3 separate regions of the Homo sapiens genome follow, and regions 1 and 3 are each reported to be linked to region 2. Evidence: microRNA targets listed by miRTarBase, many of them from high-throughput screens and not tested one by one. Region 2 holds a microRNA gene; each other region holds the end of a gene's coding sequence.
The links. Region 2 holds the annotated microRNA hsa-miR-2052 (UGUUUUGAUAACAGUAAUGU, at 1,697-1,716, shown strand). A microRNA usually pairs through its seed, bases 2 to 8, with sites in the 3' UTR of a target mRNA and lowers its output. Matches are read on the target gene's strand: a 7mer-m8 pairs with bases 2 to 8, a 7mer-A1 pairs with bases 2 to 7 and ends in A, and an 8mer does both.

Region 1 (4,248 bases), not on the chromosome of region 2:
AAACCATTTCAGTGACCCAGACTATTTCATTGAAAAAGGAGAGCAAGAAACAGATTCCAGAGATGTTACAGCAAGGCAGTCATTGGACTTGCTGACTTACTGAATGTCAGATACTGAAACGAAAGGAGTTAGAGATGCTGCATTCACCTGCATTCCTTTTTAACCAAAGAAGAAAGAAAGAAATGGTTTTCATTGAAGCTTAAAATGTGTCTAAGACTTATTAAAGCTATTGGATCTAGTTCTAACTGCTTCCTATCACAGGGACTTTACTAGGGTAGAAGCAATGTCACCAGGATCAGTACTTGCATGGATGAGTAGAAGGACAGTCTTTCAGATTCTAATTGCATTCTTGTTCTTCTCAAGTCATGTAACACAGACTACATCCTGGATCCATCCCGTGATGAGTGTCCTGAATCTATCTCGCTCAGAGGAGAATGAAGAGGATTGCTCTAGAGAACTCCCCAACCAGAAAAGTTGATGGTTTTCCTTAGGAAGTGGAGCTACATGGATGATGTGAGCAGAGACGCATAACATCCAATTCTGAGATGAAACAGTCTAAAATAGGAGTAAAGCATGCACTACTTGTTGAAGTGTGAAATGGAGACTCTGGACTTTGGGTATTTTTGTAAAACTTTTGATATTTCTGTATACATTTAAAAAATCAATTGCCACTACAGTAGTTCCTTAAGAATAATCTAGTTATATTTTTTGAAATCACATATAATTAGACTTTATAATATATATACTTTTTCATATATAATTAGATCTTTCTTTGTAATTTCATATGTAGTTCTTCATAGGGTCTCAGATACAATGGTTTTTATAATTGACATATTGAAAAAGTATATGAACATAATGAAACACCTCATTTATTTGATAATTCACTAATGTTTTATATTCATATATTAGGAAAGTGAACTTAGCAAGCTTTTTGGAATTTAAGGATCACATTTAGACATCTCATGGGCTGATGAATACAGCTGGTATCTTTGTGGAGCTTTCTAATTTACAAAATGCTTTGTAGACCCCATTGTCTTTAAACCATACAACATGCCCGTGAAGCTGATCTGGTGGGTATGTTTATTCTTGGTTTTCAGTAGGGAAATAGCAGTTCAGAGAGAGGAAGCTCTCTGTCCCAGCACCGAGACTCACTCCTAAGTCTTCTGATTCCATGAGCAGTCCCCCTTCCCCCATACCCTGCTGTCTCCACGGAGGGAGGTCACAGCCCATCACGCAGGACACTGTGATTGTGTTGATGCAGCTGGCTCCACAGCTGTGCATTCCACAGAGATTCAGAAGGCACCTCTTCGGTCAAACATGGCCCCTCTATAACCCCACTATTCTTCTCCTATAAACCCTTCCCCCTTCTCTGCACCCAAGCCTTCGCCAAGTAGGCGCACTCTTTGTGATATTGTTTCAGCAGACTTCTTTCAGCAGCTCGTGTTTTTCTAAAGTGAAAGGCATGGTTTGTCCTGCTTAGGTTGCCCTTCCCAGAGGGATGGTTTGAGGGGAGCTGATGAGAAGAGAGGTATCTGTTAAAACATTACTGCTCTACTCGAAACAAGATGGAAGCCTAAAGCCCAAGTCGAGCAGCTCCCAGCACTGCTGTGCAGACCTAGAGGTCCTTAGAACATAGTCTAAGAACCATTCATTGTAGCCATTTTATAGTTGAGTAAACTGAGATCTTAAGTCTCCTAGTCTACTGAATTTCATATGGTGTATAATACAGATTTATATGGTAAAGATATACATATACATTGTGCTCAACTATACATTCCTGAATCCATTTAGGATTTGTGATTTATGTCTTGAGTAATAATATAAAGTCAACTCCAGACTGATAGGTAGTCATTAGCCATGAGAAATGTTTCAGGATGGCTAGGGAAGACTTGTGTTTTGCCTGACAGCCATTTGAATGTTAGGAAGCTTCGGGGAGACAAGTTTTGAGAGAAGCCCCAGAGGGAGCTATTTCCTTGCACCCCCCAGAGGTGAATGAGGTATTCTATAAGTTAGTGTCTATAATTGTGAAAGTACAAACTTCTTGTTTTTGTCAAATTAATGGTATGAAATTTCTCTCCCCCTGCTTGAAGAGTTTTCTAATTCGTTTCTAGTGAGCAAAACAAAGAAGGTGCTTGAGTCACTGAAATCAAAGTACTCAGGCACACAGCCCACTGACAAGAGACACCTCATCCATTAACTGCTGTTTTGTACCACTTGCCGCCCTGTTTCTGTCAAATACCTAGTGAAAAAGGCCTAAACAATTGTAATGATATTATTTATTGGGCATTTTGTGCCATACATGGTGATGAGCAGTTTGCATATATTTATTTATGATCTTCTTAAAACCATTCCATGAAATAGGAACTGTAATTATCCCCAATTCTAAAAGAAAAAACTTAGTTTTAGAGAGTTAGTAATCTTTGCCTAAGGGTCACAAAGCACCTATGTGTAGAAGCTAGGGTTCAAGGCAGATCTGTGATTCCAGAAGCTGTTCTCTAAACCACTATGGAGAACTGCTTAGATTCATTGTCTATGGGTACATTTTATAAAAAGGCAGATTCTAGTTCAGTGTCATAAGGAACTTTCTAGTAATTAGAGCTGATAAGAAAAGAATTCCCCAGGAGAAAATGGAAACACTATCCCAGCAATCTGAATTCCTTACTTGGGGAATGTTGCTGAGGAGGTTCAGTGTGTGAATGGACTGAACCAGTTGGCCACTCTCTCAGATTCCCTCTTCATAAAGCTTCCGTGACTTCTAAACCATCAGGTCGGTGCCATAAGAGATGCTCAAAAAAGCATGGTCAGGGCTTAGCAAGAATCCTTTTCCAGTGCAAATACGACCCTCATATTATGTTTTGGCGAGTAGCCAGTCTTTCTTTAACATCAATCAACCGTAGCAATGTGGTCATCACGAAGTCTTCATTGACTCACTGGCTTGGATTTTAGGGTTAGAAAATCTGAATGTTCTTATGTCCTTCCGTCTCACTTTACTAGAGTGCCCAAGTTGACTCATCCTTACTCACTCATTCCCTCAAAATATTTATTGAGCACCAACAATGTCACAAGCACTGTGCTAAACACTGTGGTGAAGTAGAACAATTGCTAATCATTTCCTGGGTTCCACTTACTCTTGATTTAAAAAAAAAAAAACAACAAAAGAGTTTGTGTGTGGCCAGGACTAAACAGCTGCTTCTTAATTTTTGAATTTTAAAACTAATCTATTTTATTTAAAAAAAATCAAGTACTTTGGAAGTGAATAAAGTAAGAGATAGCCTGTCTCACTTTCCAGAGGTAGCAGTCACTAATACTGTGGTGAGTGATTTTACTCAAAGGAAATCACACTATTAAGCAGCTTGGTTTTGACATGTTATGTTGTGGTCATCTTTTCATGTCAATACATAGATTAATCTTTTATTTCAAATGTCTACATAAAATATCACTACCCACATAACCTATAATTTGTGTGGCCAGCAATTTATTGAACACTAAAATGTTTTAAGTTTTCTTATTGCTAACAATGTCACAGTGAACATTTATATATTCATTAAATCCTTTTCCTCATGTATCTTTGCACTCTTGTGCTAGTATGTCTATAGTGTGAATACATTCATAAATTTCTTGATCAAAGCTAGGTCAAAGTTACATTCATTTTAATTTTGGTACATATCCATAAATTCTCCATAAAAGTAGGACCAACTTACATTACCACCAATAGTGTATGTGAGCCTTATTTTTATGTATGATAGGACTTTTTTTAGTCCAAATGTTCCTATAGATTTTCTGGGTTTTTTTTTTTTTTTTGTCCTTGGAAGAATAACCTTCCTTCCACCAAGTCCAAGAACCTGAGATTTTTAATCATTAGGTTTTAGATTTCCTTTAGCAGCAGAGACTGACTTGCTGTATAGAGGGAAGTCAAGTAGTGACTAACTCACTATATGTCAAACACATCATTACTCTTCTCTTTTCCTACTTTACATGTAATGGTTGCGAGGACCAACTTTCAAATGAGCTAACTTGGGTGAGACGTTCACTAAAGTACCAAGCACAATACAAATGCATCTTCGAGTTCTTTGGGCCTCACTTTCCCTATCTGAATAATAAGGATAGTAATCCCTTGCCTTTTCTCAAACCAGTTCAACTCAGCAAACACTTCCTGAGCACCTGCTACATGCCAGGCAAAATGTGAAATTTGCATGCTATGAGGCTAAATGGTACTGATTCTCAAAACAAGGAGCTCATAGTCTAAAA
Region 2 (4,248 bases):
TTTGGGTTGTAAAAGGGATATTTGAGTAGGGTGGTAACTCTTTTGAGGGAAAGGTAAGAATAGGAGGAAGGGAACATCTGGCTAATGGGAAACATATATCTATATGGGAATAGATCTGTGATTTTTTTTCTATTAATTTTCTAAAATTTATTTCTTTTCGTGGGTATCTGCAATGTGTGGAAGTTACTGGAAAGCAGAGGTCCTTTCCCCACTAAAGAAGGCCTTAAGAGACAAATATTTTCTTTCTATACTTCTTGGCAATGAGAGCATTGGCATGTGATCAATGCTTGGTTGTTCCTTCGGGACAGTGCATCTTGAGGAAGTGACCAAGGGACACATGCAATAGTTTTATGCTTCTTGCCTCACTAACATCCATGTGTGCCAAAGATAGATGGAGTCTTTCCAGGCACTAACTACAGAGAATAAAACTATGATCTCCTGGGAGGTGTCAGGAGGGTAGTAGTCATCTGGCCATAGGAGATCCAGCAATTTCTTTTTCATATAGACTTCCATTCCTCCTATCCTCAGCCCTCAGACTTTCCCCTTTTTCTTTTTACTAAATCTGATGCCTACAGGCCTCTCTGGGATTTCTTCAGGGTGAATCAACTTTATTCTCCTCAGGATCCCAAAGTGGGGATAACTGCACTTAGAATTACAGTGCTGTCACTCAGCTACCTCAGTAATCTCTCTCCTACACTTCTCATCTTCCAAAACTTGGTTGAAATGTTTCATCTACTGAGATCTCCCAAATGGTTTATCTTTTTTGACTTGATAAACATTTCATTTAAGGAAATTTTGGAAGAACTTCAGGAGGCAGAGGAGAAAAATACATATTGGCAACATATCAAGTTTAACATTGCAATCTTCACAAACTATCCTCTTTCAATGGTTAGGATAAGCATGGCAGGATAATTGTATTGTTAAAACATGTCCAGAAGTTAACTGTGAATAATATCACTGTGCTCTAAAGCATAGGGCCACATCATTATTGAAAGTTGCACTGGTCATGATGGTATAGCAGCTCAGCTGAACTTCCTTTACTTTTATTCTTTCTTTTTTTTTTTTCCAGTGGAAGATGTCAGGATGTCAGGATCTTCCACTAAATGGGGCAACTTTTGCATCAGAGTTTGATTGACTACTGTTAATGTCTGTCTCAATTTTGATTTCTAATTCAGACAATATTACAAGAAAACCCAGTTTAGGGACATGCCAAAAGTTTCATAGGAAAAAATTATTTAATTGAGTTTTTATGTTTGCCAAAACCCACTCAGTTAAAATACTTTGCAGACATTTTTTTTTCTAGTAAAATTAAAAGTATTTAACGTTCTTCCATATGTTTCAGGTTGAAAGTTGATGTACTAACCCTTTCTCTTCAGCCTCTCTAAAAAGTAAATAACCTCAAAAATTGAACTGGATGTAAAAGTCATATATTTTCATTCTAAGATTGATACTTAAGGTCGTTTCCAAATACCACTACTCTGGCTGAATTTATGGCCTTTTGATGCCCCAGACTGTTTCCTTTTGAGGACTCTGACCAAGAGTCTGATCTTTCTATAGTTGGCCTGTGAGATTTGAAAGGGAAAAGCCTTCAGTAAAACATAGAGATGGTGCTTGTAGTCAAGGGATACGACCTTAGGCAGAAAGAAGGGGGAAAAAAAGACCATGTCAGTTTCTACTTCCAAGAAAAGCTGGTTGCTGTTTTGATAACAGTAATGTCCCTTTAGTTCAAAGTTACCAGCTATCAAAACAAGTTGCAGTCCATAGCAGACTAACTCCTTTCCCTTACAGAGAAGCAGATTCTAGTGTAACTGACTCCAAATAAAAATATATTTACGATAAAACTAGGCCCATGGATAGCAAGCAGAAATCAGAAAAAAACTAAACTTCTGAAATGTTCGGGAAAAAAAATATCATATGCTGTTTATATCCCTACAACTAAGATATCATTAGAAAAATTGTGTTAGAAGGAAATAAAATTCTAAAAGACGACACATCAAGGAGACAGGGTAATAGAAATTAAGTATCTATTAAAGTAAAATACAGAATCACTCCATCACATGTGTTAACTGTTCAGCAAAGCAGTTCTGCTCTGCAGTTGGTATGAGGTTTGAGCAGGAAGTATTATTGTCTGGCGTCAGAGCCAGGGCAGGATCCAGCTTGAACCTCCAAGTCATTTCACAAGGAAATATGAAATTGCAGAACAGTGTGGGTGGGCAATGGACATGACCTGACTTTCATTTATTAAATAAACACAGACTTGAGTAGTTGTACTTCTGAGAACATTAGCAGTGGCATTGCCAAGGTATAGCACTTGGGGAAGAGGGAGTTTTGTCCCTTCATAAATCTCCATGAGCAACCCCCTCTAAGTCATCCCTCATAAATTTACAATCTAAGTAATCTAAGTAAAATCAAGTGTGCTTGCTCTGTAATGTAGCTTCCAGGCAAATTAATTAGCGTTCACTTCCAAAAACCTTCTCACTCCTAAGTCCTTTCTATAGCGAAATTCAGGAGCTGCCAGTGTTAGTCCAACTCCCAAGATTATGTGCAATGTTGGTTCTTGCACGAACCAGAGCACGAGGGGCCTCCTTGGTCTCCAGTTCTCTTGTATCATTGTTTCATTTGCTGGCAACGAGAGCAGGTAAAGAAAACCATAGTGTTTGTGTAGTATAAAAGATGACTTCTTAAAGATGTGCAGACAGCAAAATCCATGCTTAACCAATTGTAAAAATAAGAAAACCTGAAAACAATTACTAATCTATTTATACATGTAAAAACTGGAAAATGAATTCTTAGTATATGGACTGGACAGCTCTCAGAAAATTTTTTTTCACAAGCTTCTTGGCGGGGAAGGGCATATTCTGCTTCTAGGCAGAAATGAAGTCGTTGGGGAGGATTTGCAAGTGCGTGAAGTGGATGCACACGGGTGAGGCGTGCCCATTTTAGGTCAAATGCACTTTTCTAAAATGTATTGGTTAAGAAATAAAAAGAGTACCACAGAATTTCATCACATCCCACTATTGCATTTTCTAATTATGGTGTTTGTCAATGTGACTAGTGAAAATTCAATATTTATAAAATAACTACATTCTAAGCCTGTGATGCACAGTCAGTGTTTGAATCAGAGAATTTGTGAGTTAAAATTCCCTCCCATGTAGATATCTGTCGTCACCTGAAAGCTCTTACCATCTGATCTAAATATGTGAGGCACTGCTGGGTGCTATATTGTTACATTGAGTGTTTGAGGTTGGAAATAATTTTAAAACCGATTGAGTCTAATGGCCACATCTGCCCAGGAGAGGCTGAAAGTCTTCTTCAGAATACACCCATGCTGACAGAGTGATAGCCACTGTTATAAATACAAAGTCTGTGAAATAAAAATAAAATACATACAAGCAATTAGGATAGTATCGATATGGTAGAGTCTGAAAGGTATCAAGAAAGCTACAAAGTCAGACAGGTTAAGCAACCAGAATTCATTTTCTTGTTTAGTCACTCAAAATATTCTTTTTCTAGCCACAATGTTGCAACCAGTTTTATGGATTTGTGCCCTGATAGTATGCAACTCTTTGTAGTCTTTGGACTTTTTTTTTAACTGCAACTGGGGCTATTGGGCTATTTTCATAAACTGTCACTTAACTGGGCAAAATTCCAGTCCAGATGCTCCTGGAGTGTTTTTATGTATGAGACATTGTCTGCTTATTAAGGCTTGTCTGTAATTTCAGTTAAACTGTTGAGTGGACATTGTTGCTTACAGAAGTTAGAAGATACCAGAGAAAGAATGGACAATTTTTGTGAGAAACAAGCAATTCTCTGATGTTTGAGATAATATTAAATAAATCAACCGGAGATGATGATGGATTAACTAATTAAGGGATCCACGTAGTCTTTACAAAGGCACCCAGGAGGTGCTTATAATATCCTTGAGGATGGATGTCTTTATGATGCAAACAGTGAAAAGAACTCTCCTTGGAAGAAGACAAGATGAAAGAACTTTGTCTAAGTTCCAAATGGAAATGGAACTCCCCCATTAAAAGTTAAAAAAAGTAAAGAGGAAGACCTAGAGGAAGTTCTTCAATAGAGAGTCTTCGGCTTTCTCTATCTGTGAGCCATTTTGCTCCAGGGAATATGTTTCCTCATAAATTTTATGAAGAGACCCCGTGATCTGGCATCTTGAGTTGGCATATAATTGAACCCACTCACAGGATCTTAATATCCTCTGCCAAAGGAGTCATCATCTGAATGGGAAAA
Region 3 (4,248 bases), not on the chromosome of region 2:
TCAGGGATCATAACAAAAAAAATACAGTTACCTTTAAAAGATAATCCAACTCCTAGGCCAGAGAAAGACTAAAGATTTTAACACATCTGAGTAAAAATATGCCCATCAGAGGGGGTGGGATGTTTGTCAATAATGAAGATTAGAAAAACAGCAGTCACAGAGAGGAAAAAGTTGGCAGGACCTGCATAAAGGAAGGCGTGGTCTTTGTCAACAGACCTGGTATCTCATCCCATTAACAAGGCTAGCCCCACTGGGGTGGGGGGTGGCATCTGCATCAAACTCTTTGGCCTCATGACATTAACCATGTGAATTATATAACAAGCTCCCTTTGTTTTGTTTCAGTTCACCAAGTAGCCACCTTATTATAATTTGACCCCTTGTAAATCTGTCTTCTGAGAGAGAATCTGCTGGTCATATCAAGTCAAGTGTTTTTATCCTTATGCTAGTTATATTTTTGGTTGTGAATCACTACCTGTACCAACTATATGAATTGACTAACAAGAGACAGGTCTTATGGTGCAATAACAAAAAGCAGGGTTCTAAGTCAATAAGGCTAACAGTCACACCCAAATAGTTCACTCTTCAATGTCATGCCACCCAGCAGGCTCTCTCAGAAGGCAGCTTGCTCCTGTTGTCACCTAAAAGTACCTCTCTGTCTTCCTGCAGGTGTCTTCAAACTTCCACATCCATTATGTTGTCTATCTTGCTTTCAGTTGGACAAGAAAAGCTAATTTATAAAATTGTACATCTCTCACTCTGGGAAACAATCACACATAGCATAATGTAAGAGAGCATTTCTTTAGTTGACATCATTTCAGGATCTTAATTCCTCCACATATTTAGATATTTTTATGTAATCCATCATCTATTCCAAACCCTCTTAAAATCTAAATATATGAAATTTCCAGATTTTTTTAAAAAGTCATAAATTGAAATATTGTCCTTCATGTCAGATGGACATTCCCCTGTAATTCAGCCCTAGGTATTACTGGCAAACCATACAACTAATTCACAAAGCATTTTTTGTGATATGTAAAATGTGTTTTAAAACCTTTTAAAAATAACACTTGAATGATACGATTGTTTAAGCATAGCCACCTACACTATATCTCACCCACACATCTGGTGTCAAAGAGTTCAACTTGCTAACAACAGTAAGCTTTTGTAGGCACCAAGCATAAGCAGTAAAATAACAAAGGGATCTGTTAGGCTCCATAATTATACACCTATGGTGTGTGAGGCACAAAGCCAACTTCCAACCACCTGTGAAGGGCAGAGCCATTTTATTGAGTGGTCGTTTAAACTGTTCAAAGGCCTTTAAAAAGGGAGGAGGAGAGGAGACAGGAGGTGAGGGAGAAAGAGAAGGGAAGGGAGGAAAGAAAGGAGGGAAACATTTCTTGGAAGAGTTATCTGTACATTGCTTGATGGGGATTAGAATTGTGATCAGTACTATAATACACCCCCAAATCAAATGAAAACAACATAAATACACTAAAAATATCACAAGTAATGCTTCTAATTGTTTAGCTTCTCACAGTAGTCACAAAGCAGAAACTGACAAACCTATGATTTCCTCTAAAAATAAACATGGAAAACAATATCCTCAAGGACTGCTGTTGTTCTTCTCTCTTTGGCTGTTTTTACTGTGATGGTTACACCTGGCTAGCTGCCCATGAAGAGCTGCTTCCTTCCCTCAGCAGTACCTCTTCCCCCTGGCCCAGCGGCTGTCCTGGCTGGGATGTACCTGGCAGCCCCAGCAGATTGTTCATGTGTTATTTACTCATACGCATACGTTGTAGCACACAAACTGCTTCTTAGGAGACGAACTTGGTGAGCACAGGCACTGATACATCTGATACATTTATATCACCAATAAATATAATTTAAAAAAACAGATTAAACCATAAGAAAAATATTCAAACTTCTATTTACTCATAAAATAGTTACCATAAATCTGAATGGAAAATATATCCTTTGGTTTTTTAAAAATCCAAGTCTATATAAAGGCAGATTAACTTTAGTGGATATTACAAAAAAAAAAGTTCCCAGTATGAAAAGATGTCTGGCAAAAACAGACCTGTAAATACTTCAAAGAGGAACTATCATTTGAAAATCAATCTAGGAAGTTCCAGATGGATAGTCATGCTCTTTTTTCATGATTTAGAAAAACTACTTAATTTGGCTCAGGAAAGCAGCAGTGCCAAAATTCTGTCTATCCTTCGCCCATAACCTTTGTCCTGATAAAAAGATTATTTTTATGATCCCATCACAGGAAAAAAAGCCTGATTTTGATTCTCAGAATCAACTTAGCAACATCTTAACCCTGAGATTGTCTTGCCATGTTCAAATCTTTCCTCAGATCTATGTTTTGGCCTTCTTTCCTCAGGGTCAAAGCTCATAGCCCCTCATTTCAATCTGGAGTTTAATATCATGAATCAAGAAAAAAAATCATTTTATAAGAAATTGTTACAAACACCTATAGCTAAACAATTTTTTAAATGGATCAGTCAATTCAAAATATCACAAGAGCTTAAGTGCCTTCAATTTCAAAATACAAAAAAAGTAATCATAGTATCTAATCCTTACGTATGTATATAAAAATCTTACGTATGTATAAAAAACTTTAAAATGTCTTCAGAAACATTTCCCTTTATCACAGTTAAATAGCAAGTTGGCCATTATTGAAAAATAAAAAGTAAAGCCACCAACATTGTGAGGCCCATGGCTGTAGGGAGATGGCTCCTAAGCTTGCACCTGAAGATCTTGTCTACCTGAGTCAAAGGATACATCAGGGCTGGATTTCTACCAGTGCTGCATCTCAGTGTGGTCTTGCACAAGTTATTTAACCTCTCATGAGCTCAGTTCCACCACCATTAGCATTTTCCAAACGTGTTCCAAGGAATATTAATCTCATGAAAAAGAGTTCTGTGGTCAAATTAAGCAAGAAACTGCAGCACACAATTTCTCCCCTTTGGGAGATTCACAGTGCACACGAGCATTATGAATGCCTCTGAGAGATACTGAAATACATTAGTTTAACTTTATATCAATCTTAGTTGACCTCAGAATACCTTTATTGACCAACACTTGGTAGTAGCCTGTGAGCTGTACTTTGGAAAACACTGGTCCAGCATGTCTCAGGTCTCTTTAAGGACTTATACTGACGAACTATAGGAAGAGTATTGCAGAGTCTTCTGACACAGGTTCAGGGGATTAAGACCAGATTTAGTGCCCTGGTGTCGACAAAGCACCTGTTCATGCTTACTAGCCCCTTAAGAACAACGCCATTCCCCTGTTCCTAATGAAAGCCTTCATTCAAGGTAAGTGGTAGTGGCTGTCACAGAATTTTGGTATCCACCTACAGTACAATAAGTAGCAGAAGTCACCAAGAATGCTAAGTTATCTTCAAAATGGGTTGGTTTCCCTTTCCAGACTGACTTGTTTTTCTCCACAGCAAATGTTTTTGCCACCGTTCACTAGAACAGTTCTGCCTAACTTTAATAGAATCCCTGCCCTTTGCCCACTTCCTTGTCCAGAATGAAGTCAACTTGAAGGTCGCATGTCAGGCAGTACTCGGGTTAAAGAGCTGCTCTTCCAAGAAGGCACCCCCAAGGCCATACTGCTCTTCATGCAGACTGATTTCTTCAGGTGACAAGTGGCTTCCTCCAAGAACAAAGTCTGCAAATCTAACAAGTTTTTTGTTTTAAATAAAGTTAATGTTATCTCAGGAAGGTTTATTTGAAAGATAACATGTTCCCTTGCTATTTATCCCCTTTAATTAAATTTGACTTTGCATCAATACAGGGTGGCATTTACACAGTGGGTGTAAAAATGGGAATGGCTTATGTGATCCCTCTAAAAACAGCTATTCATGGAAAGGGCAGAGAATTAGGGCAGATATATAAGCACTAAGTAAGCCAAATGTACTCACTCCTGTTTTCTAATTCCTTCTTGTCTCTATTTTTTATTAGTTTGAATTTATTATTATTCATTATTTTGTTTCAAATACTTCCCCCTTCCATCTTTAATTTGAGGGCACTGTTATTTGGATAAAGTTATGAGGAAGAGAAAGCAATAAGGAAAAATTTTGGGACAGACGTCTTTCTTAGTGAACTTTAAAAATGATTTTCCAGCTGGGTGCGGTGGCTCATGCCTGTAATCCCAGCACTTTGGGAGGCCAAGGCAGGCAGATCACGAGGTCAGGAGTTAGAGACCAGCCTGACCAACATGGTGAAACCCCATCTCTAC

Region 1: miRTarBase lists STXBP4 as a target of hsa-miR-2052. Seed matches in the 3' UTR shown: 7mer-A1 at 2,116-2,122 and 8mer at 4,222-4,229.
Region 3: the mRNA of NEMP2 is a reported target of hsa-miR-2052. Seed matches in the 3' UTR shown: 7mer-A1 at 2,365-2,371 and 7mer-A1 at 330-336.

Annotation. Positions count from the first base shown.
Region 1 is chr17:55,159,434-55,163,681 of GRCh38, forward strand. It overlaps STXBP4 (syntaxin binding protein 4), which reads left to right. Exons shown (of 18, transcript NM_178509.6): 18 at 364-4,248. The coding sequence ends at 478. Among named protein-coding and RNA genes, the nearest start is that of HLF, 100 kb to the right of the region's middle.
Region 2 is chr8:74,703,998-74,708,245 of GRCh38, forward strand. MIR2052 (microRNA 2052) reads left to right here and starts at 1,696; the gene lies at 1,696-1,750. All of the region lies in intron 4 of MIR2052HG (MIR2052 host gene), which reads left to right.
Region 3 is chr2:190,505,627-190,509,874 of GRCh38, forward strand. It overlaps NEMP2 (nuclear envelope integral membrane protein 2), which reads right to left. Exons shown (of 9, transcript NM_001142645.2): 9 at 1-3,686. The coding sequence ends at 3,563. Among named protein-coding and RNA genes, the nearest start is that of NEMP2, 27 kb to the right of the region's middle.